3 separate regions of the Homo sapiens genome follow, and all the other regions are linked to region 3. Evidence: fine-mapped expression QTL. A gene starts in region 3. Each other region holds a variant in brackets. All regions are shown on one strand. Distances are between the middles of the regions.

Region 1 (8,001 bases), 38 kb before region 3:
TGTTTATGAATGTGATGGCTCAGAAATACACTCACCATGACATATTAATTTTAAAATAATATTTAATAATGATCTTATGATTTAGAGCATTCACATTGGATTTTTAAAAGCACCATGTCTATTATGAGAGAAATGAAAGTTACAGAAGATACATAAAATAACCAGTTCCATGGCTGTTGTTGTCTCCTTTTCCAATAAAAATAAGAGACTCATTATTATTCCTGGGATTCTTAGGACAATCTCTTTTATGCCAGTAGTCTTCTGAAGAATGACCCAACAGTCCTTTGGTATGTTAAAGATATTCTTTAAGTCTGTTTTTTACAGAAGAAGCAAAACACCAGCCCTTGTGCTGTTGCACATTCAAAATAATTCACAATTCATTTTTGTTTAGCATTTTGAAACTTGGCAATGAAGCATATGGCTCTCTATCATTATTCTATTATTAGGTTCCATTAGCAATAATTAGATAAATGGTCATTTAGCACTTTGTACAACCAGGTACTGAGTTAAGTGTTAGACACACCTTAATGCATTCAATCCATGTAACGACTTTATGACACAGGTAATATCTATTACCATTTTACAAATAAGAAAACCAAGGCACAAAGAGGTTAAGCAGCTTGCTCATAGTTACACAGATAGCAGATGACTATTTCAAAAAGGGAAATTTATAGCTTCCCTCATGTAAGATGAGGGAATGTGAGCTTCTGAATGTGATGAGCAAACGAAAGAAAATGAAGGAGGCAAAGTACAAAGAGAGTTGAATGAAAGGACTGAATTGAAAGAAATGCTTTCTCTTTCACAATTTTCTCTAATCTTATTTGGCTGACTGTGGTGCTCAAAAAAATGACAATAAACAGGTAAGAGAATTATAATCTTACCAAGAGCAAAGATGACTCCTACCAGACTCCTACCAGACACTAGGAAGATCAATTTTTCTTGCCTTATTTAAAAGGTGAATTTCCACTGTGTGGAACTGCAAATATCCAATCTCATTGCCCAAACTCTGGGATGACATCTGGGAAATAAATAAACATTTTGGTACCATGTCAGATTCCCTGGTTGCAGAGGCACAGATCGATCTATGAGTCCTAGACTATTGACCGACAAACCTGGTTCCTAACATGGATTGCAGGTGACCTTTGGAGACTGACTTCATGAAGGGCCCATGGAGCTCACAGACTATTAGCTACAGAGGGTCCAACTCCACTGGTGTTGCCCTCATTAACTTGAACAAATAAAAACTTGTTTGTACAGATCTCAAATTACCTCCTGTTACAAATGTCCAGTGCCTCTTCCAAGGGCCCAGATCCAAAAATCTGTCAACAGATCACAGGAGTTTTTGCTGAGGCTGGTGCATATTCTGATTTGTTTGGATCATTTAGAAGCCTTTAAACAAAATATCACAGGCCTCTAAATCTTCAAGTATAAACTAAAAAAAATAACTCATGGTTAATAAACTATGAACTCCAACAAAATGTGTCTGACAAAATGGAAATTGTAAAACATTTCAGGAAAAAATGCACTAAACTCTCTGATAATGAGGTTGGAAAAGATTCCCTTTTCCGCACCCAAAACAAAGGAATGAAAATCCCTGCTTTAAGTGAAGAGAGTTGCCATTTATTTTATGGCTGAAGACCAAATTATACATATTTTTGTGACTTTCCGTTAGGGATCAAGGTCAATCACCAGATTTTTCTCTCACACCAACCACACGGCAGCAGCACAAATACGTATGTTCCTCATCCCTTTCACTGTGAATTTTTAATTTTGGTTTTCCCTCTCAGAGCAGCTAAGATTTCTTCATTTGTCAAAAGGGTAGCCATTAAGAAAGTCATTTAGTTAATAAACAAGGAAATTAGCTAGCCTGATACAAAACAGATAGTAACAACACTAACAGCAATCTGTACACGCAAATTAAAGCAGCGAGAGTTGCTCTGATAAGCACTTTTAAACTGTTAGTGGTACTCCAAAAACGGCATCACCAGTATTAGAGGTTAGACAGCAGTTTAAAACATTTCTTCCTGTCTCATTTGGTTCCTGCAAAAATCTCAATAGTAATTTTTGAGTTTTACCTAAGGATGTGCAGAGAAAGACATCAGTAGAAAGAGGAAACAAGAAGTATCAAAGTAGGATAACTCATCTCCCATTCCAAGCACTTTTCTTTTTCTTTTTCTTCTCTTCTTTTTTTTTTTTTTTTTTTTTTTGAGACATTGTCTCACTTTGTCACCCTGGCTGGAGTGCAGTGGTGCCATCATGACTCACTATGGCCTCAACCTCCCGGGTTCAAGTGATTCTCCTGCCTCAGCCCCACAAGTAGCTGGGACTAACAGAGCCCACCACCACTCCCAGCTAATTTTTTTATTTTTTGTAGAGATGGGGTTTCCCTATGTTGACCAGGCTGGTCTCCAACTCCTGGGCACAAGTGATCTGCGAGCCTCAGCCTGCCAGAGTGCTAGGATTACAGGTGTGAGCCACCGCACCTGGCCCCAAGCATTTTCCTGCATCTTCTTTTGTTACTCTTTGGAGCAACCAGCTAATGCTTGTTTAAGTTTGAGGAAAGCCAAATAACCTAAGTAAACAACACAATGGACACAGGACTTGTAAATCTCATGAAAGACAATGCCAGATTTTAAAGTACATAGTCATCAAACAAAAAAATTAGCATCAGAATGTTCATAGCCACATGTAAATGTTCTATATTTTTTAAGCTGATAATCTCTATTTAATTTGTACATGTAATAATTTTTTGGTGGTGGAATCAGCATAAATATAAATATCACTGTTTCATATTGAATCAAACTATCTTCAGTTTTCTACAAAAAAAATAAATCTTTTTTTTCACCTAACCTTCCTTGGTACAAAAATTAAATCTTTCTTAATATAGAATAGGAAGAATCTGCTAATTCAATAATACTAATTTCTTTTTTGCTGATTAAAAAAGGAATGAAAAAAATCTCCTCATCTAGTCACTTCCTATAAAATGCTTGAAATGCTTTGTTCACCATTGGCTTTAATAATTCCTTCCTTCAGTTGGTGGAAAATGTATCTGAATCAGTAAGAATCTACTTCTGCCAATTCCTTTCAGGAAGACAACCTTCCACCTACTGAAATCACACCTCCACTCCAGGCTGTAGCCATTCCCAGCCTCCCTCCTTCACCTCAGTGGGACCTTGTTATCCTGATCCGCACAGCATTATGCTGAACTCCCAAGATAAGGGGAACAGAAAATAACCAGTAACAGGTATACATGTTTAAACTATCATTAAAATAGTTCTATAAAATAGAAAGCCAGAGTCTCAAGGGGGTAGCTGGCCAAGGATAAATAAACCACTTCAAGTATAATATAAATTCAAAAGTGTTAAATAAATAATAAATTTTACTTAAATCTACCAAATAAAAAGATAAGTAGTTATATAAATATGGTCAATACATTTTTTAAAAAGAAAAAAATATGCATTTAATTTGTTAAACCAAAATACTCAGATAAATATAGCATAATATATTCAATACATATTTCACATATTGCTGACTTTAAAAGTTTTTTATTCTAAGTATAAAAGTAATCTTCTCTTACTATAATCACTACAAATTGATAAATTAATTGTGTATATAAACTTAGGATAAAATACTTGCTATAATTACTTAAAGCATTTAATATTTTCAAAAGTGTTTTAAAATCTGTTCCTGGCTCAGTTTCTTAAATGACCAGGGATATTTCTATATTGCTGCTTGTCTGAGCTTTGAAAAAAACCAGTACTTAAAATGCTGCATTTAAGCAATAGCTGTTTTAGTTAAATACATTCTAATAGTTCCAAAATTTCAAACATTTCCACTGACAAGTGTCTTTGGTTGTTGTTTTGTTTTGAGACAGTGTCTCACTCTGTCACCCAGGCTGGAGAGCAGTGGTGCGATCAGGCTCACTGCAGCCTCCACCTCCCAGGCTCAAGCAATCCTCCCACGTCAGCCTCCCAAATAGCTAGTACCACAGGTGTGTGCCACCATGCTCAGCTATTTTTTTTTT[C/TC]ATTTTTTTTTGAAGAGACAGGGGTCTCCCTATGTTGCCCAGACTGCTCCCAAACTCCTGGGCTCAAGGGATCCTCCGAATCTGCCAAAGTGCAGGGGTTACAGGCATGAGCCACTGCACCCAGCCCAATTTACAAGTCTTTAACTTAAACATTAGAAATGGAAAAGCCTAGGCACTTTGGACTTAATTTACACGGAGGGAATTTTAAACGCAAAGAATCTTCGGTGTTCTATAAAAAATTCACACATTCAGAGAAGGTATCTTACCTAATTTTTAAAGGAAGAAAGGAAAAAGTATGAGTAAAACATTATTTTAGTGGAGAATGTTGTGCTCCTATGAGGCCCAAGATTCATAACCAACCATGATGCCAAAGGGGAGATTTTTTTAGAGGAATGAAAAAATTATTCCAATGTTACTTGATCAACACTAGACTCCACTAGGAGGCACTCTGAACTTACGTGCTACTGTATGACCTAATACTTTTGTGTCACTTTTTGTGTGTGTGTGGCTGCAGAAAGCACATTTCCTGCTCATAATCAAAGTGTCAGCCAGTAAGAGACCACCATAATAACTGTGGTAGGAGCCTCAAAAACTGAAGCTGTATTCTGATTTGTAAGAAAACCAATGGTAATCATGTGTTACAAACTCTTCACTTGATAAAATGATGGTTTCAGGGTTCCTTTAAATAGGGAAGACTTCTAATGTACTGAGAAGAGATTCCAAATTACAAATACTAAATTTGTCATCAGCCTTTCATGTTATTACACTGCCCCATTCCAACTCTTCACAATGCCAGTCAGTGGCAAATGGGTTACCATGCATTATGTTTTTAAAAGCAGAAAAGAGTGCACACAAAGTGCCCAAAGGCAACCAAAAAGACCTTAACAGCCAATTGCTTGGCAAATAGATAAAGAAGAAAAAAGTTTATGTAATTGCTACCTGCTTTTTATACAAACACATGTATTTCCTGGAACATGGTAAATGTTTGTTTTGAAAGTAACCTCCATAGTCTTTCCCCACGTCGTTTATCAGTACTGGATTGGAGAGCAGTTTATGACAATAAAGATTTCATTTACCTTTAATATTTTTCTCAACATTAAGATTTTAGATTACTTTTGTCACTTCTTATTCCCTCCAGCATATACACAAACCCACATATACACACACATTAATGTTAAGCTTCATATGTCTAAGGTGAATTTCCTAAATTCCATACATACCATGTTTAAATATAAATTACAACCCCCAAACAATAAATGGCTCTAATCTCCACTTGTGAAAAAAAAGAAGGATCAAAGAGTTTGTCAAACACTCTGCTGTAAAGAACACAAATCTGAGCAATAGTCCATTTTTTATGTTCACCCTTATTAGTATGGGTACAACTTCTCCCAATGTTTGTATATTGCCCAGTAAAGATGACATCTGGTGTTGTTTCAACAATATTTGGAGTAATGAAGCAGATCCAAATTAAAATGTTCCCTATAGCTATATTTTCCTTCAAGAAACTCCTACGATGTCCTAGATAAAACCCTAGAAACAGGCTATGTGAAACTACCTGGTTTATCTATTGTAAGACTAAATACAACTAATTAATTGACAGGATTTCAACCCAGGGTTGAAAGAAGGGAATTTACTACAGTATGCCTATCTTGCATTCAGAAACAAACCCCAAATAAAGTTAGCTATCTAAAGAGGTTTTTTGGTTTGGTTTTAAAATTTATTTTATTTTTTCTTCAGTAACACTTGGCAAAATGTTGAAAACAGAAGAATCTGCTGGAGAAAAAGTAGTTGCAAAAGAAATAAAATACAACTGGGTTAATGTCTTTAACACATAAATAAGTCTTACAAATATAAAAGAAAAGAGGAAAACATCAACAGAGTAACCACATGTAGAAGTAAAAATAATATAAAAATGTTCAAAAATAATATAAAAAATGTTCATGTTATCAATCCAAGTTATAACGTATTCTTGAATTGGCAGTTAAAAAAAAGAAAGCTAATTTCAGGCTGGGAAATGGGTGTTCTCATACAGACTGCCACAGAAATATAAACTGTCACATGGCTTTTTTAAAGAACAATTTGGCATATACGTATCAAACACATAAAAATATCCACACTCTTCTACTTAATTTTACTTCTAGAAATTTATTTTAAGAAAGTAGAGATAGGAAAAAATTAATCTAAAAGTATTTTCATCAGAGTGTCATTTATAACAGCAAAAACAAATTTCTAAGATCCCAATAATAGAGGACTGATAGAGGCATAAAATAAAATGTAATGCAGCTACTTAGATGCAGCTGTAAAAGAACATTTAGTGACAGGAGAAAATGTTCACTATCTAATGCTCAGTGAAAAATATTGCTCAGTTATCTTAATTTTATGTCTTATGGTTTTGAATCTCTGTTTGTATATGTGCATATATGCATGAACAGAACAGCAGAATGGCTGACACACAAACAAATGATATCAGTGCTTATCTCTGGGTAGTAAAATAATGGGTAATTTAAAAATATTGTCTTCTTTGTGCTTATGTTTTTTTGCATTTGACAATTTTTCATAATGAACAAGTATAATTCAAGAAAACAATGGGGGGAAATATAATTGCTCAGAAAAATAAAATTATGTGACTTCTTATATCTGATGCTCAGTTTCTGATAACTAGAATAGCACTGCTGAGAATAATGAAAATAGTGTTCTGTAAGAGGCTAAAATTGATTCTATGCCCACAGAAATGAAGAGAGAGGCATCGCTTCTCTACCTGGCAAAAGTATCTCTGTCTAACCTAATACCATATGAAGAAGCTCTATCTAACCTAATACCACACTATTAGGATAGGTTTCTCATCACTTAGATCTATTCCCAGGATAATAGTCAAATCATCCTCATAAGAACCACAGGCTTATTGAAAGCTACTGTCATTGTAAAATAAGCAGTAAGATGGCTACAAGCTCTGCTGTGATCTCTCTAAACCTCTTTGTGCATCTATACAATGGGAATAATAGCACTATCGATCCTAGAGGCAGTCTTTCAGCCAAACCAATTGTCCATCCTCAGATAAAGTTACTGTTTTTTTATATCAACAACAAAAATTTGCGGCATAGCCAGGACACATTCGTTTCCATAATCTCCTATGTCGGACAGGACATGTTTTAATTATTTGTATTTTAAATGCTGTGTTTTCTATCTGTTCACTGAGCATGTAAGCAGACTTTAAGAGTTGCAGTTAAGCTGATTATTTTGCACATGAAGCTATGTCTATAATTTCCTGAATAAACAAATAACAATCAACAAATATTTACTGAGCATCTTCCATGTTCCAAGAATTATGTGAAGTACTGAAATAAAATATTTTTTAAATATGGGCAAATCATTCCCCAGATCACATACAAGATAAGAAAATTGTATTTTTCCCAAATTTAGTCTAATGATAACTACTGAATATTTATGAATATGAATAATTAGCTAACCCTTACATTTGTCTTGTTAGTTTCTTTTCTAAAGGACTGGAAGCATTTTATTACTTTATAATGCCATTTTAGTAAGTTTTGCTATTTTATTGTGGCAAAGTATACATAACATAGAATTAGCCACTTTAACCATTTTTAGGTATACAGTTCAGTCCCATTAATTACAGTCACACTGTTGCACAACCATTACCACCATCCATCTCCAAGAACTTGTTTATCTTCCCAAACTGAAACTCTGTACCTATTAAATAGTAACTCCACATTCTCTCTTCCTCCCAGCCCCGAGCAACTAGCATTCTATCTTCTGTCTTGAATCTGACTACTCTAGGTACTTCAAGTAAGTGAAATCATACCACATTTGTCCTTTTGTGTCTCGCTTATTTCACCTAGCGTAATGTCTTCAAGGATCAGCCATGTTGTAGCACGTGTCAGAATTTCATTCCTTTTTAATGCTGAATGATATTACATCATATGCATATTCCACATTTTGTTTATCCATTCATCTGCTGA
Region 2 (8,001 bases), 320 kb before region 3:
ATACAAACTCAGTGTACAAAAATCATTATTGTTTCTATACACTAACAACCATCTGAAAAAGAAATCAAGGAAGTCCCATTTACAATAATGCAAAAAAATACTTTGGAGGTGAAAGTTCTGTATACTGAAATCTATAAAACATTGAAGAAAGAAATTGAAGAATATGCAAATGAAAAAATATCCCATGTTCATGGATTGGAAGAATTAATGTTTAAAAGTTCATACAACACAAAGTGCTGTATAGATTCAGTGCAGTCCCTATCAAAATTTCAACAACATTTTTCACAGAAATATGAAAAACAATTCTAAAATTTGAGTGGGACCAAAAAGAATGAATAGTCAAATCAGTCTTGAGCAAAAAGAACATAACTGGGATTAGTGAGGCCAAGATGGCCGACTAGAAGCAGCAGCAATTGGAGGCTCTCATTGAAAAGAACCAAAATAGCGTCCGAATCCTGCAATGGCAAATAAGATCCAGGTTCTGTCATCAGGACTGACTAGGTGGCTGGCACGACCCATGGAGATGAAGGAAGATCTGTGTAGTGTGACGGCCCACCTGAGAGCCACATGGGGCAGGGGAGCCCTCATCCACAGCCAAGGAAGGCAGTGAGTGAGCATGCTACCAAGCCTGGTGAACCATCCTTTTTCCACGGAACTGTACAGCACCACCAGGACCTTGGGTTCCAACCACAGAGCCATGCAGATTCTCAAAAACCACTCAGCTAGAATCTGCCTGTGCCTGCTGAGTTCCTGAGGGGAGGGACAGCTATTGCCACTTCTGTGGCTGCCTGCGGTCTAAGCCATCTGAGCTCCTTGGGGAAGGGATGGCAGCCAACACTGCAGCTGCTAGCTACCTAACACACTAAGCTCTTTGTGGGGAAGGGCAGCAGCTATCACTATAGCTCTGGGCTGCACTTTTACCCTGCTGGATCCAGGGAGGCTGGATGGCTGGACCCAAGAGGTATCCCCACAGCCCAGCACACCGGTTGTGGCAGACCACGGCCAGATTGCCTCTTCAGGCCAGACCCTGATACATCCCTCCTCCTTGGGCAGGACTTGCCTGCAGGAACTCCAACAACTCCAGCCCAGGGCTCACAGACAGAACTCTGACCTCCGTGGGCCTGAGCCCCTAGTGGAAGGGGTGACCATAATCTCCATGGACCAACAGACTTAGTCTTTCCTCCTGCTAGCTTTGAGGAATCCAGGCAGCCCAGACGAGTGGGTATTCCCTCAGCACAGCACACCCCATCCACTAAGGACAGCCAAATTGCTTTGTTAAATGGATCCTGCTTCCTGTGCCACCCAACTGGTTGAGACCACCCCAACAGGGGTTGTCAGACACCCTATAAAGGAGCATTCCTACTGGCATCAGGTAAGTGACCCTCAAGGTCTGAGATCCCAGAAGAAGGAGCAGGCACCCATCTTTGCTGTTCTCCAGCCTCCTTGAGTGACATCTCCAGGCATGGAAGCAAAACAGATGACTAAGGCCTGAAGTGAGCCACCAGCAAACTGCAGCAGGCCTACAGAAAAGGGACCTGACTATTGAAAAAAAAAAAAAAAGCAACAACAGCATGAACAAAAAATGTCCCCACAAAAACCTCATCCAAGGGTCAGCAGCCTCAAAGATAGAAACTAGACAAATTCATGAAGATGAGAAAGGATCAATGAAAAAAACACTGAAAACCCAAAAGACCAGAGTGCCTGTTTTCCAAATAATTGCAACACCTCCCCAACAAGGGTGCAGTACTGGATGGAGAATGAGATGGATGAATTGACAGAAGTAGACTTCAGAAGGTGGGCAAGAACAAACTTTGCTGAGGTAAAGGCTCATGTTCTAACCCAATGCAAAGAAGCTAAGAACCTTGATGAAAGGCTACAGGAGATGCTAACTAGAATAACCAGTTTAGAGAGGAACATAAATGACCTGATGGAGCTGAAAAATAAAGCATGAGAACTTTGTGAAGCATACACAATATCAATATCCAAGTTGATCAAGCAGAAGAAAGAATATTAGAGATTGAAGACCATCTTGCTGAAATAAGGGAGACAGCCAAGATTAGAGGAAAAGAATGAAAAGGAACGAACACAACCTCTGAGAAATATGGGACTATGTAAAAAGACTGAACTTATGACTGATTGGAATACCTGAAAGAGATGGGGAGAGGGGAACCAAGTTGGATAACACACTTAAGGATTTTATCCAGGAGAACTTCCCCAAACTAGCAAGACAGGCCAACATTCAAATTTAGGAAATACAGAGAACCCCACTAAGATATTCCATGAGAAGATCAACCCCAAGACACGTAATCATCAGATTCTCCAAGGTCGAAATGAAGGAAAAATGTTATGGCAGCCAGAGAGAAAGGTGAGGTCACCTACAAAGGGAAGCTCATCAGACTAATAGAAGGCAGATCTCTTAGCAGAAATTCAACAAGCCAGAAGAGAGTGGGAACCAATATTCAACATTCTTAAAAGAATTTTCAGCCCAGAATTTCATATCTGGCTAAACTAAGCATCATAAGCAAAGTAGAAATAAAATCCTTTTCAGAGAAGCAAATGCTGAGGGAATTCATCACCACCAGACCTGCCTTGCAAGAGCTCCTGAAGGAAGCCCTAAATATGGAAAGGAAAAACCAGTACAAGTCACTGCAAAAACACACAAAATATAAAGACCAATGACACGATGAAGAAGCTGCATCAACTAGTGTGTAAAATAACCAGCTAGCCTCATGATGACAGGATCAAATTCACACATAACAATATTAACCTTAAATGTAAATGGACTAAATGCCCCAATTAAAAGACACAGACTGGCAAATTGGATAGAGTCAAGACTCATCAGTGTGCTGCATTCAAGAGATCCATCTCACATGCAAAGACACACATAGGCTCAAAATAAAGTGACGGAGGAAAATTTACCAAGCAAAATAGCAAAATAGCAGGGGTTGCAATCCTAGTCTCTGACAAAACAGACTTTAAACCAACAAAGATTTAAAAAAAGACGAAGAAGAGCATTAACATAATGGTAAAGGGATCAATTCAACAAGAAGATATATATATATGCACCCAATACAGGAACACCCAGATTCATAAAATAAGTTCTTAGAGACCTACAAAGAGATTTAGACTTCCACGCAATAATAGTGTGAGATATTAACACCACACTGTCAATATTAGACCAATGAGAGAGAAAATTAACAAGGATATTCAGGACTTGTACTTAGCTCTGGATCAAGTGGACCTAATATATATCTACGGAACTCTCCACCTCCAAACAACAAAATATACATTCTTCTCAGTGCCACATGGCACTTATTATAAAATCGACCATATATTTGGAAGTAAAACACTCCTCAGCAAATGCAAAAGAACTGAAATAATAACAGTCTCTCAGACCACAATGCAATCAAATTGGAACTCAGGATTAAGAAACTCCCTGAAAACCACAAAACTACATGGAAATTGGACAACCTGCTCCTGAATGACTCCTGGGTAAATAATGAAATTAAGGCAGACATCAAGAAGTTCTTTGAAACCAATGAGAACAAAGAGACAATGTACTAGAATCACTGAGCTGTAGCTAAAGCAGTATTAAGGGGGAAATGTATAGCACTAAATGCCCACGTCAGCTAGAAAGATCTCAGGTCAACACCATAACATCACAAAAGACCTAGAGAAGCAAGAGCAAACAAGTCCAGAGCTAACAGAAGACTAGAAATAACTAAGATCAGAATGGAACTGGAGGAGATAGAGAAACAACTCTTCAAAAAAATAAATGAATCCAGGAGTGGTTTATTTTTTTGGAAAAATTAACAAAATGGAACACTAGCTAGATAGTAAAGAAGAAAAGAAAGAAGAATCAAACAGACACAATAAAAAATGATAAAGGGGATATCATCACTGACCCCACAGAAATACAAACTACCATAAAATATACTATGAACACTCCTGTGCAAATAAACTAGAAAATCTAGAAGAAATGGATAAATTCCTGGATACATACACCCTCCCAAGACTAAACCAGGAAGAAGTCAAATCCCTGAATCGGCAAATACCAAGTTCCAAAATTGAGGCAGTAATAAATAGCTTACCAACCAAACAAAGCCCAGGACCAGACAGATTTACAACCAAATTCTACCAGAGATACAAAGAGGAGCTGGTACCGTTGCTTCTGAAACTATTCCAAACAATTGAAAAGGAGGGACTCCTTCCTAACTCATTTTATGAGGCCAGCATCATCCTGATACCAAAACCTGGCAGAGACACTACAAAAAAGAAAACTTCAGGCCAATATCCCTGATGAACATCCATGTGAAAATCCTCGATAATATACTGGCAAACTGTATCCAGCAGCACATCAAAAGGTTATCCACCATGATCAAGTTGGTTTTATCCTTGGGATGCAAGGCCGGTTCAACATACGCACATCAGTAAATGTAACCCATCACATAAACAGAACCAATGACAAAAACCACAAGATTATCTCAATAGATGCAGAAAAGGCCTTTGAGAAAATTCAACATCCCTTCATGTTAAAAACTCTATAAATCAGGTATTGATGGAACATATCTCAAAATAATAAGAGCTATTTATGACAAACCCACAGCCAATATCATACTGAACAGGCAAAAGCAGAATATTCCCTTTGAAGACTGGCACAGGGCTTTGAAGACCGGCACAAGACAAGGATGCCCTCTCATCACTCCTATTCAACATAGTTTTGGAACTTCTGACCAGAGCAGTCAAGCAAGAGAAAGACAGAAACGGTATTCAAATAGGAAGAGAGAAAGTCAAATTGTCTCCGT[C/T]TGCAGACAAGATGATCCTATATGTAGAAAACCCCCTCATTTCAGCTGATAAGCAATTTCAGCAAAGTGTCAGATACAAAATCAGTGTGCAAAATTCACAAGCATTTCTATACATTAACAATACACAAGCAGAGAGCCATATCATGAGTGAACTCCCATTCACAGTTGCTACAAAAAGAATAAAATATCTAGGAATACAGCTAACAAGGGTTGTTGTATTAGTCTTTTCACACTGCTGGTAAAGACATACCCAAGACTGGGCAATTTACTAAAGAGGTTCATTGGACTTAACAGTTTCATGTGGCTGGGGAGGTTTCACAATCATGGCGGATGGCAAGGAGGAGCAAGTCACATCTTACATGGATGGCAGCAGACAAAAGGAGAGCTTATGCAGGACATCTCCCATTTCTAAAACCATCAGATCTCGTGAGACCCATTCACTATCATGAGAACAGCATGGGAGAGACCCACCCCATAATTCAATCATCTCCCACTGTGTCCCTCCCACAACACGTGGGAATTACGGGAGATACAAGATGACATTTGGGTGGGGACACAGAACCAGACAATATTATTCCCTCTCATATCTCATATCTCCACATTTCAAAACCAATCATGTCTTCCCAACAGTCACCCAAAGTCTCAGCTCATTTTGACATTAACCGAAATGTCCACAGTCCAAAGTTTCATCTGAGACAAGGCAAGTCCCTCTGCCTATGAGCCTGTAATATGAAAAGCAAGTTAGTTACTTGCTAGATACAATGGGGGTAGAGGCATTGGATAAATACAGCCTCTCCAAATGGGAGAAATTGGCCAAAACAAAGGGACTACAGGCCCCATGCAAGTCCAATATCCAGCAGGGCAGTTAAAGCTCCAAAATGATCTCTTGACTCCATGTCTCACATCCAAGTCACACTGATGCAATAGGTAGGTTCCCATATTCTTTGGCACCTCCACCCCTGTGGCTTTGCAGGGTATAGCCTCTCTCCCAGTTGCTTTCACAGGCTGGCATTGAATGTCTTTGGCTTTTTCAGGCACACGGTGCAAGCTCTCCATGGATCTACCAGTCTGGGGTCTGGAGGATGGTGGCCCTCTTCTCACTGCTCCACTAGGTGCTCCCCCAGTAAGGACTCTGCACGGCATCTCTGACCCCACATTTCCCTTCTGCACTGCCGTAGCAGAGGTTCTCCATGAGGGCCCCACCCCTGCAGCAAACTTCTTCCTGGGCATCCAGGCATTTTCATAAATCTTCTGAAATCTAGGCAGAGGTTCCCAAACCTCAATTCTTGACATCTGTGCACTTACAGATTCAATACTGTGTAGAAGCTGATAAGAATTGGGGCTTCCACCCTCTGAAGCAACAGCCTGAGCTGTACCCTGGCCCCTTTCTTCCATGGCTGGAGCAGCTAGAACACAGTGTACCAAGTCCCTAGGCTGCACAGAGCAGGGGGGGTCCTGGACCTGGCCCACAAAACCATCTTTTCCCCCTAGGCCTCTGGGCCTGTGATGGGAGGGGCTGCTGTGAAGACCTCTGAAATGCCCTGAAGACATTTTCCCTATTGTCTTCAGAATTAACATTCAGCTCCTCATTACTTTTGCAGATTTCTGCAGCCAGCTTGAATTTTGCCTCAGAAAATGGGATTTTCTTTTCTATTGCATTGTCTGGCTGCAAATTTTCCAAAGTTTTATGCTGTGTTTCACTTTCAAAACTGAATCCTTTTAACAGCACCCAAGTCACCTCTTGAATGTTTTGCTGCTTAGAAATTTCTTCTGCCAGATCCTAAATCATCTGCCTCCAGTTCCAAGTTCCACAAGTCTCCTGGGCAGGGGCAAAATGCCACCAGTCTCTTTGATGAAACATTACAAGAGTTACCTTTGCTCCAGTTCCCAACAAGTTCCTTATCTCCATCTGAGACCACCTCAGCCTGGACCTTATTGTTCATATCACTATCAGCATTTTTGTCAAAGCCATTCAGAAGTCTTTAGGAAGTTCCAAACTTTCCCACATTTTCCTGTCTTCTTCTGAGCCCTCCAGACTGTTCCAACCTCTGCCTGTTACCCAGTTCCAATGTTGCTTCCATATTTTCAGGTATCTTTTCAGCAATGCCTTACTCTACTAGTACCAATTTACTTCATTAGTCTGTTTTCACGCTGCTGATAAAGACATACTCCAGACTGGGCAATTTACAAAACAAAGAGGTTTACTGGATTTACCGTTCCACGTGGCTGGGGAGGCCTCACAATCTTGGTGGAAGGCAAGGAGGAGCAAGTCACATCTTACATGGATGGCAGCAGGCAAAAAGAGAGCTTGTGCAGGGCAACTCCCATTTTAAAACGCATCAGATCCTGTGAGACCCATTCAGTACCACAAGAACAGCATGGGAGAGACTCACAGCCATCATTCAATCATCTCCCACCAGGTCCCTCCCACAGCATGTGTGAATTATGGGAGCTACAAGATGAGATTTGGCTGGAGACACAGAGCCAAACCATATCAGACATGAAGGACCTTTGCAAGGAGAACTACAAACCACTGCTAAAGCAAAAAGAGAGGACACAAACAAATGGAAAAACATTTCATCCTCATGGACAGGAAGAATCAATATCGTGAAAATGGCCATACTGCCCAAAGTAATTTACAGATTCAGTGCTATTCCCATCAAACTACCATTGACATTCTTCACAAAATTAGAAAAAAAAAAACTACTTTCAAATTTATATGGAACCAAAAAAGAGCCCATATAGCCAAGACAATCCTAAGCAGAAAGAACAAAGCTGGAGGCATCACACTACCTGACTTCTAACTACACTAAAAGGCTACAGTAACCAAAACAGCATGGTACTGGTACCAACACAGACATGTAGGCCAATGGAACAGAATAGAGACCTCAGAAATAAGGCCACACATCTACAACGATCTGATTTTCAACAAACCAGACAAAAACAAGCAATGGGGAAAAGAGTCCCTATTTAGTAAATGGTGCTGAGAAAACTGGCTGGCCATATGCAGAAAACTGAAACTGGACCCCTTCCTTACACCTTATACAAAAATTAACTCAGGATGGATCTAAGACTTAAATGTGAAACCCAAAACCATAAAAACCCTAGAAGAAAACGTAGGCAATACCATTCAGGACATAGGCATGGGCTAAGATTTTACGATGAAATTGCCAAAAGCAGTTACAACAAAAACTAA
Region 3 (8,001 bases):
TGCATCCCAACCTGACAATACTTGGCTGAAATGAGTATCTACTTTTCCCTTTAGACAGCTTGGATTCTCCAGATTGCCACGCCTCTCCCTCCTGCTCTTACCTATGTATTGTTTAACATTTTCTGCCTGACTTCCATTCTAAGGCATCATGCTCCCTTTGGTCTCTTTCAATCTTCCCACCTCTTCAGCTGCTAACTACCACTCATGCTTCAGGTCTTCATGTATTCATGCTGCTAGGAAGTTTTCCTTCACCACCACCAACCCAATTAGGATGAGATGATGCACTGTGTGACATTCACCTACCCAGGACCCTGCTATCCTATCTTCTGAGGTTCTCTTCACTACCCTTATCATGGCATGAATCATATGGCATTATAATTTTTTAAAAATTTTCTTTATAAATTTATAATTCTCTGTTTACAGATCTGCATCCCTCTCTAGACCTTTCAGTCATAAGAAAGTGACTATAACTGTCTTGTATACCATTGTATGTCAGTGCCTAGGAAAAAGCCAAACGTTTAGTGTGGGCTGAATAAACACTTGTTGCATAAATGAATGAAAAAAGTTAGCTGAGGAATGGCTATTTCAAAATATTGGGGAAGAGTGTATTTATATTTTTATATATGTATTCATTTTTAAAATGTGGACCACTGAAATTCCATTCCTTCCCCCCTCCCCCTACCCTGGAGAAACTAAAATAACTACTTGAGTCATAGAGCAATAGCTGTATACTGGCAATGTGCTAAGAACCACACATGGATTAGCTCATTTAATGCTGACAACAGTCCTTTCAGGTTAGTATTTCATTATTCCCATTTTGGAGAGGTAAACATTCAACCCCAGATAAAATGAAGGCCTTATTCTCCACAACACAGTAAATTGTAGGGATACATGATGACTGAAATTTCTGCCAGGATACCTGAGAGCACATGACACCAACAGCAGCTTTATTCACAGCCCATCTTTTGAGCTATTTGTATGTGGTTTTAATAATTAGCTTTCGCATTCAAATGGTAAAGAAAGTTCTTATACACACAAGAAGCATTTATGGCTATTATACCAGATGACACGGCTTCCAGGGCAGTAAGAAGGATCTTTAATCTCATTTCACAAATAGAAAAACAAAGGTATGGAACAATAAAGCCAAGTGTAAAGTTAACATTATGTCCCTCAGGCTGCCCCTCAGCCTGCCATGCCTTAATGTGAGAGTCCAATCAAAGCCTCAAAGCCCAGTATGTAAAGCCTAATAAATTCTGCACATAGCAGATAGATAAATTCTTCCTAGGAGGAGGAAAAGAATCAGAGATGTCACTGAGTCACACAAAATACAACCTAGACAGAAAGTCAAGATCCCTGGTCAATCTTTTCCAGGTGGAATTCTTGCTCATTCTTTGCCCCAAGAAAAAAAAAAAAAAAAAAAAAAAAAAAAAAAAAAACAAAATTCTAAGTCTTTTTTTTTTTTTTTTTTGAGACAGGGCCTCTCTCTGTGGCCCAAGTTGGAGTGTGGTGGCATGATCACAGCTCACTATAGCCTCAACCTCCCAGTTTCAAGAGATCCTCCCTCCTCAGCCTCTTGAGTAGCTGGGACTACCGGCGTGCACCACCACACCTGGCTTTTTTTTTCTTTTAATATTTTTTGTAGAGAGAAGGTCTCACTATGTTGCTGGTTTCAAACTCCTGAACTCAAGCAATACTCCCGCCTCAGCCTCTCAAAGTGTTGGGATTACAGGCATGAGCCACCACACTCAGTCTCACCAAGTCTCGTAACTTTTAAAGTCAAATTTCCAGAGTCACTTCAGGACCCACCAGGCCTTAAGGTCCAGCTTATTAAAAATCTTACATTAAATCTCTGTATATTTTTTCTAGGCATTATAATTTCCTTCCTCAAGGAGTTGAGAAAAAAACTGTATGTGGGAACCACAACATACAGTTGAAGGAAGTTAGAATTAAAATTTCTATAGCTTTTAACATTTGATTAGCACATCATACATGTGTAGAATGTTTTCCTAAGCTTTCATTCTAAAAACACAGAATTCATTTTATTTCCAAGTGCACCTTGATGAAGTAGGAGCACATGGCATTTTATTTTAGAAAGCAATGTCTTAACAAACTTGTTATTTCTTCCAATTATGCAAACTCACCAAATGATTTTTTATCTATTTATTTATTTAGTTTTATCTTTTTTTGAGAGAGTCTCACTCTGTCACCAGGGCTGGAGTGTGTGGAGTGATCTCAGCTCACTGAAACCTCCACCTCCCAGGTTCAAGCGATTCTCCTGCCTCAGTCTCCCAAGTAGCTGGGATTACAGGTGCCTGCCACTATGCCCAAGTAATTTTTTGTATTTTTAGTAGAGATGGGATTTCACCATGTCGGCCAGGCTGGTACGGAACTTCTGACCTTGTGATTTGCCCGCCTCGGCCTCCCAAAGTGCTGGGATTACAGGCGTGAGCCACCGCAGCCGGCCAAATGATGATCTTAAAGGGCCTTTGATAATGCATTCTTGACCTCATTCTACTTGCCATGTATAGTCATTAGAAGACTGTTCATATAAAAATATGAAATAAAACTACATAGTCTTTAAGTTACCTTGGAAGGCCCTTCAGGACAAGGAACATACTCTATATCTTTATATCTTTAAAGCATATAGCAGAGTGCATCGCGGAATGAAAATGCCTATTAAGTCAGGAATGCAGGAACGACAGGGCTTACCATTTAATATCAATTCTAAAGCTGATTATTTATTTTTGAGACAGGGTCTTGCTCTGTCACCGAGGCTGGAGTGCAGTGGTATAAACACAGTTCACTGCAGCCCTGACTTCCTGTAAAGCTGATTTTTTAGGCCATTTACTTGCTTTATAAAGTAACTAGAATGGCATGAACTATGCTTTTTTGTGCCTGTGATTATAAACTGAAAATTTACAAACAATATGTCACATGTTATTTGAGCTAAATGTCTGATTTTACTAAAATGAAAGTATCCTTCCTGGATTATTAGAATTAGCAGTAAATTTAAGTTTGCACCTAGAAGAGAAAAGCGATTGTAAAGAATGTAAAACATCTGAAGCAAACAAAGTCCAATAAGATCTTCCTTCTACTTGAATTTCTATGACCACAAAGGCACAGGATGTAAGGTCCATAGCTTTGTACACAGGGATTGGTGGGGACGACACGATTTCAACTCTGAACCCCAATGACCAGCTCCAGGAACACATGCCTTTTAGCCCCGCAAAGCTACTGACCAAATCACCCAGAGAGATAATCACATCTCAGCCAAAGGACCTGAACTCAGACGATCAGAACACAGGACCTGCCATCAGGCAGCTGCACGAGACAAGAGACCGTGCTCAAAATCACGTAATACCCTAAGTCATCCCAAGGGAGCCCCACAACTACCCTCAGCGGCAGGCAGAGCTGACGCATATTTTGCAGATGACAACATACAGGTTCCGATGGGGCGGGTCCCAAGGCCACAGAGCTGGGAAGGTGACTGAACCTAGACTTAACTAGTATCCCAAGTGGTGGATACTTCCCATTCTGCCTTGGAGATCGCCCTTCGCCCGCGTATTACATTCGGAGGCTGGCAAAACGGCAGGAAGAGAGCAAAGCTGGGCAAGGACGGGAAAGAAAGAGGGGAAGGAATTTCCACTGCTTCCCGGCACTCGCCCCCACTCCACACCCCAGGTTGCTACTCCGCGGCGGCCTCTACTTCCCCAAACTAGACTGAAGGGCGGGCGGAGAACCGAGGAGGCTTTCTAGGCGTCACGGAGAGTTCTCCAAGTTGGGGGCAGAAAAGGCGAATGAACAAATTGTACCCCCTAGGGAGAGGGCACAAGGAGAAGTGCGGAGGTGAGAAGGACCGGAGGGGAGGACGACCCCTCACAAACTGGCCAGGGACTTAATAATGGTGATGAAGGGTCGTGAGAGAGGTTTGGGAAATGCGAGAATAGCTCAGTCCCCAAAATCCTCCCTGGCCGCATCGCTGGATCCCCGCCCCATCCCCCCACCCCCGACCCGGGCAGCCCGGGAGAAAAAGCAACAACCTCCTGGGGCACCAGGAATTGGTGGCAGCAGGATCCCGAGCCCAGGCCCCCTTCCGCGCCCCCACCCTCACCCTTGCCCTGACCGCCTCGCAGTGGCGGCAGCAGCGGCAACAACACCAACCTGCGCGACCACGGGCTCTGTCCGGGACGGAAGCCGGAGCCTGCGGGCGGCGGAGCGGCGGGCGGAGTTAGTTGGAGGCTCCGGCTCCCTGGGCGGGGACAGGCTGAGCACGCGGAGGCAGCGGCGGTGGCGGGGGCTCCCTCTCCTCGGCGTGCGCCGGGCCCAGCCGGGTCCGCCGCTCGCCCTCGACTCCTGGGGCAGGTCTCAGTCCCTCCCCGGGGGCGGCTCCCGGGCCAGCCCCGCGCTCGCCTCCTCCACGCCGGCGGCCTCTGCTCCGCCCTGCCTCTTTGGGCGCAGGGGGCGCGGAGCTTGGGAAGTGGAGCCCTGGCGAGTCCCCAGCGATTGCGCGCAGCTTCCCGGGGTTTCCCTGCGGGGGTCGCGTGTGCTGGGTGTCTGAACTCACGCGCGGGCCAGAGGTAGCCAAGAGCTGGAACTCTTGCCCAAGTGCCCCGGGGAAGGGAGTGAAGGCCCGGCCTGAAAGTCTCTGACCCTCCCGAGTCTCGTGTCCCTAGAAGCAGCCTTGCGAGGTGGCCACGCCAGCTGCCCTGAGAGAAGCAGAGGAAAATGTCCGACTCTCCCTCCGCCCAGCTTCGCGCCAGAAGAACGTTTCCCGAGAGAAGGAAGGACCCATTGACCCCCAGCCCTTGCTCCAGCCTGGAGACCTGGCTGAGTGCATGGAACTGGAAGGATGGCAGAGTACCGGGGCTGAAAGCCTGGGAAATGTGCTATTTCTATTCACACCACCCCCTTGCCCGGCCCCTGGATTCAGGCCACCTCGCTCAGGTCTGCGCAGTGCTTCCCAGTTCACACCTCCGACCCGAGGAGGGAGGTCGGTATCCCTTTCTTAGCCTGGCTTCCCGCCTCCATCTGCATCCCTTTCTGCTAAACCTTTTTAACCCGCAGAGTGCCCAGCGCGCACACACCGATCACTTCGCCCCTAAACTGCGGGCAGGGAACTCTGGAGCCACCCACATCCCCAGCCTCACCCCAAAGCAAGAGAAAGCAGGGAGCCGCGCGTGGGGTGGTGGGGGCGGGGCTGGAGAGTTCCAGTAGGAAGGTTTTATACCCAAGAGGCTTGATGATGTGCAGTACTGACCCCACACACAAATTGATATGCGTTTAATTGAAGGCAGGTATTTGCCACTGTCTCTCCCTGTCTGCAGGTAACCGCTTGAGTGCGTTCACCTCGCCTCTTCCATCCCCAGCGCCAGCCCAGCCCCCTCTCTTTCTCCCAGAGTCCCATCCTCCTCTCCCTCACCTCTCCCATCCCAGCTCCCTGCAGCGCGGGTCCCGAGCTGCTCCAGATCCCCAGCACCCAGCTCTGGTCTTTCCAGACAACTCCTCCCCTTCAGAATCTGGTGTGGTAGCAGGGAGGTTGTGAGAAGGGACACTGAGGAAGATAAAGAAGGAGAAGCCAGTGGACTGGGAAGAAGGTAGGAAAGTGCGAACCGAAGGGGTACACCGGAGAGGAGCTATGGGAAATGAGGCAAAGCCTTCAGGCTATAGGGGGATTCCCAGAAAGAAAATCATTTTCTCCATAGGGAAACTACCGATGCTCGCTGTAGACCAGTTGGAAAATCTGTTGTACACCCTCCCAACAGAATTCCTAGTGAGCAGTGGCCAGACTGGTCAGGGCCTAGAGCATGTGTCCAGGAACTCCATCCACTTCCCAACCCAAATTCCAAGGCAGGCGGATGACCCTCATTTTGGAAACTTGATTCTGAGAAGGTGCGAGAAGACACCGAGCTGAGTCTGTTTACGGATCCCGGGCTGTTCTTCATCTTTAGGCATCTCCTAAGTCACTTTATCTCTTCCTCCTGGTCTGGGTTGTTAAGGAAAGCAAGCACTTGAGACCCTCCCTCAAATACGTCTCTCCTCTGTGTGTGTGTGTGTGTGTGTGTCACAGAGAGAAAGTTTGTGGTGTGAGAGAGAGAAGAAAATGTGGAGGGGCAGGAGTTCTAGGCTATGGTGTTTTGTTTCTCTTTGTTTTCTTTCTTCAATTCAGTACATTTTTGTGCCAAGATGATTTTCTTGTTCAGTGGTGACTATATTTTTGCCTTAAATGTGGGAGAGTAGTTGGGACAACACTTCTAAATGTAACCTGACGGTAACCTCTCACACCCTCAAGGTCCTGGTGTGTCTGGAATTGGTGAGTTCTTGGTCTCACTGACTTCAAGAATGAAGCCGCGGACCCTCTCTGTGAGTGTTACAGTTCTTAAAGGCAGCATGTCTGGAGTTTGTTCCTTCTGATGTTTGGATGTGTTTGGAGTTTCTTCCTTCTGGTGGGTTCGTGGTCTCACTGGCTCAGGAGTGAAGCTGCAGACCTTCGTGGTGAGTGTTACAGCTCATAAAGGCAGTGTGGACCCAAAAAGTGAGCAGCAGCAAGATTTATTGCAAAGAGCAAAAGAGCAAAGCTTCTCCAGTGTAGAAAGGGACCCCAGCGAGTTGCTACTGGGGCAGCCTGCTTTTAGTCCCTTATCTGGCCCCACGCACATCCTGCTGATTGGTCCATTTTACAGAGAGCTGATTGGTCTGTTTTACAGAGAGCTGATTGGTCCGTTTTGACAGGGTGCTGATTGGTGCGTTTACAATCCCTGAGTTAGACACAAAAGTTCTCCAAGTCCCACTAGATTAGCTAGATACAGAGTGCTGATTAGTGTATTCACAATCTCTTAGCTAGACATAAAGGTTCTCCAAGTCCCCACCAGATCAGCTAGATACAGAGTACTGATTGGTGGATTTACAAACCTTGAGCTAGACACAGGGTGCTGATTGATGCATTTACAAACCTTGAGCTAGACACAGAGTGCTGATTGGTGTATTCACAATCCCTTAGCTAGACATAAAGATTCTCCAGGTCCCCACCAGATTAGCTAGATACAGAGTGCTGATTGGTGCATCCACAAACCCTGAGCTAGACACAGAGTGCTGATGGAGCAGGGGGCAGCGCTAGTCTAGGAGGCTTGGGGAGGTTCGGTAGCGCAGGAGCCCACAGCCTTGGGGGAGGCTCAGGCATGGCGGGCTGCAGGTCCCGAGCCCTGCCCCGCAGGGAGGTAGCTAAGGCCCAGCGAGAAATCGAGTGCAGTGCCAGTGGGCCAGCACTGCTGGGGGACCAGGCGCACCCTCCGCAGCTGCTGGCCCGGGTGCTAAGCCCCTCACTGCCCTGGCGGGCGAGGCCGGCCGGCCACTCCGAGTGTGGGCCCGCCAAGCCCACGCCCACCCGGAACTCTAGCTGGCCTGCAAGCGCCCTGCTCAGCCCTGGTTCCCGCCCTCGCCTCTCCCTCCACACCTCCCTGCAAGCTGAGGGAGCCGGCTCCGACCTCCGCCATTGCAGGAAGGGGCTCCCACAGTGCAGCGGCGGGCTGAAGGGCTCCTCAAGCGCGGCCAGAGTGGGCGCCAAGGCCACGGAGGTGCCCAGAGCAAGCGAGGGCTGCCGGCATGCTGTCACCTCTCACTGGTTGGCACAGCCAATTTTAGCTGTGCTGTCAGACGCCCAGTAGTGCACCTCACCTCAGAGCCTCAGACTTACAGCCTCAAGGCATTCCATTCTGTGTGCAGGCCAGCTTGGGCAGTGGAGCCAACCACCTCCACTTAGGTGAGGAGAAGCCTCCCTTTTCACTCTCCTCAGGGCTCCACCCCACCTGAGGTTGTCTCTGCACTCTGTCATTACAAAACTAGTCCTTAGTGTCCCAGTTTTACTTTCAAAAATACTATATCCAATTTAATTTAAAAAATCTCTTTCTCCGCCCCCCGCTTGTTTCCTCTAATGCTCAAAAGGCTAGGCCATTGAAAGTTCAAGAGGGTAGAAATTTCTCTTTTTCTTCTCATCAAAAGAGAAAT

Alleles and levels. Positions count from the first base shown, and alleles are read on the strand shown. Sizes are in standard deviations (SD) of each study's normalised expression. Not every link is listed here.
In carriers of allele C in region 1, the expression in whole blood of the gene that starts at base 4,205 in region 3 tends to be lower than with TC alone (large effect, 1.2 SD a copy in TwinsUK).

What was found. PIP is the estimated chance that this variant, and not a neighbour inherited with it, causes the effect. A credible set is the group of variants that fine-mapping cannot tell apart.
Region 1: its variant is the best candidate, but not a certain one, in a credible set for the expression of PAM in whole blood (TwinsUK, PIP 0.57).
Region 2: its variant is the best candidate, but not a certain one, in a credible set for the expression of PAM in whole blood (INTERVAL, PIP 0.57).

Annotation. Positions count from the first base shown.
Region 1 is chr5:102,789,396-102,797,396 of GRCh38, reverse strand. The region is part of intron 1 of PAM (peptidylglycine alpha-amidating monooxygenase); the gene reads right to left. Among named protein-coding and RNA genes, the nearest start is that of PAM, 38 kb to the right of the region's middle. The variant C/TC (reference allele first, on the strand shown) is at 4,025.
Region 2 is chr5:103,072,820-103,080,820 of GRCh38, reverse strand. No RefSeq gene overlaps it. Among named protein-coding and RNA genes, the nearest start is that of GIN1, 43 kb to the left of the region's middle. The variant C/T (reference allele first, on the strand shown) is at 4,806.
Region 3 is chr5:102,751,509-102,759,509 of GRCh38, reverse strand. It overlaps PAM (peptidylglycine alpha-amidating monooxygenase), which reads right to left and starts at 4,205. Exons shown (of 26, transcript NM_001177306.2): 1 at 4,162-4,205. RefSeq lists enhancers at 3,482-3,571, 3,143-3,643, 4,651-5,176 and a silencer at 3,962-4,511.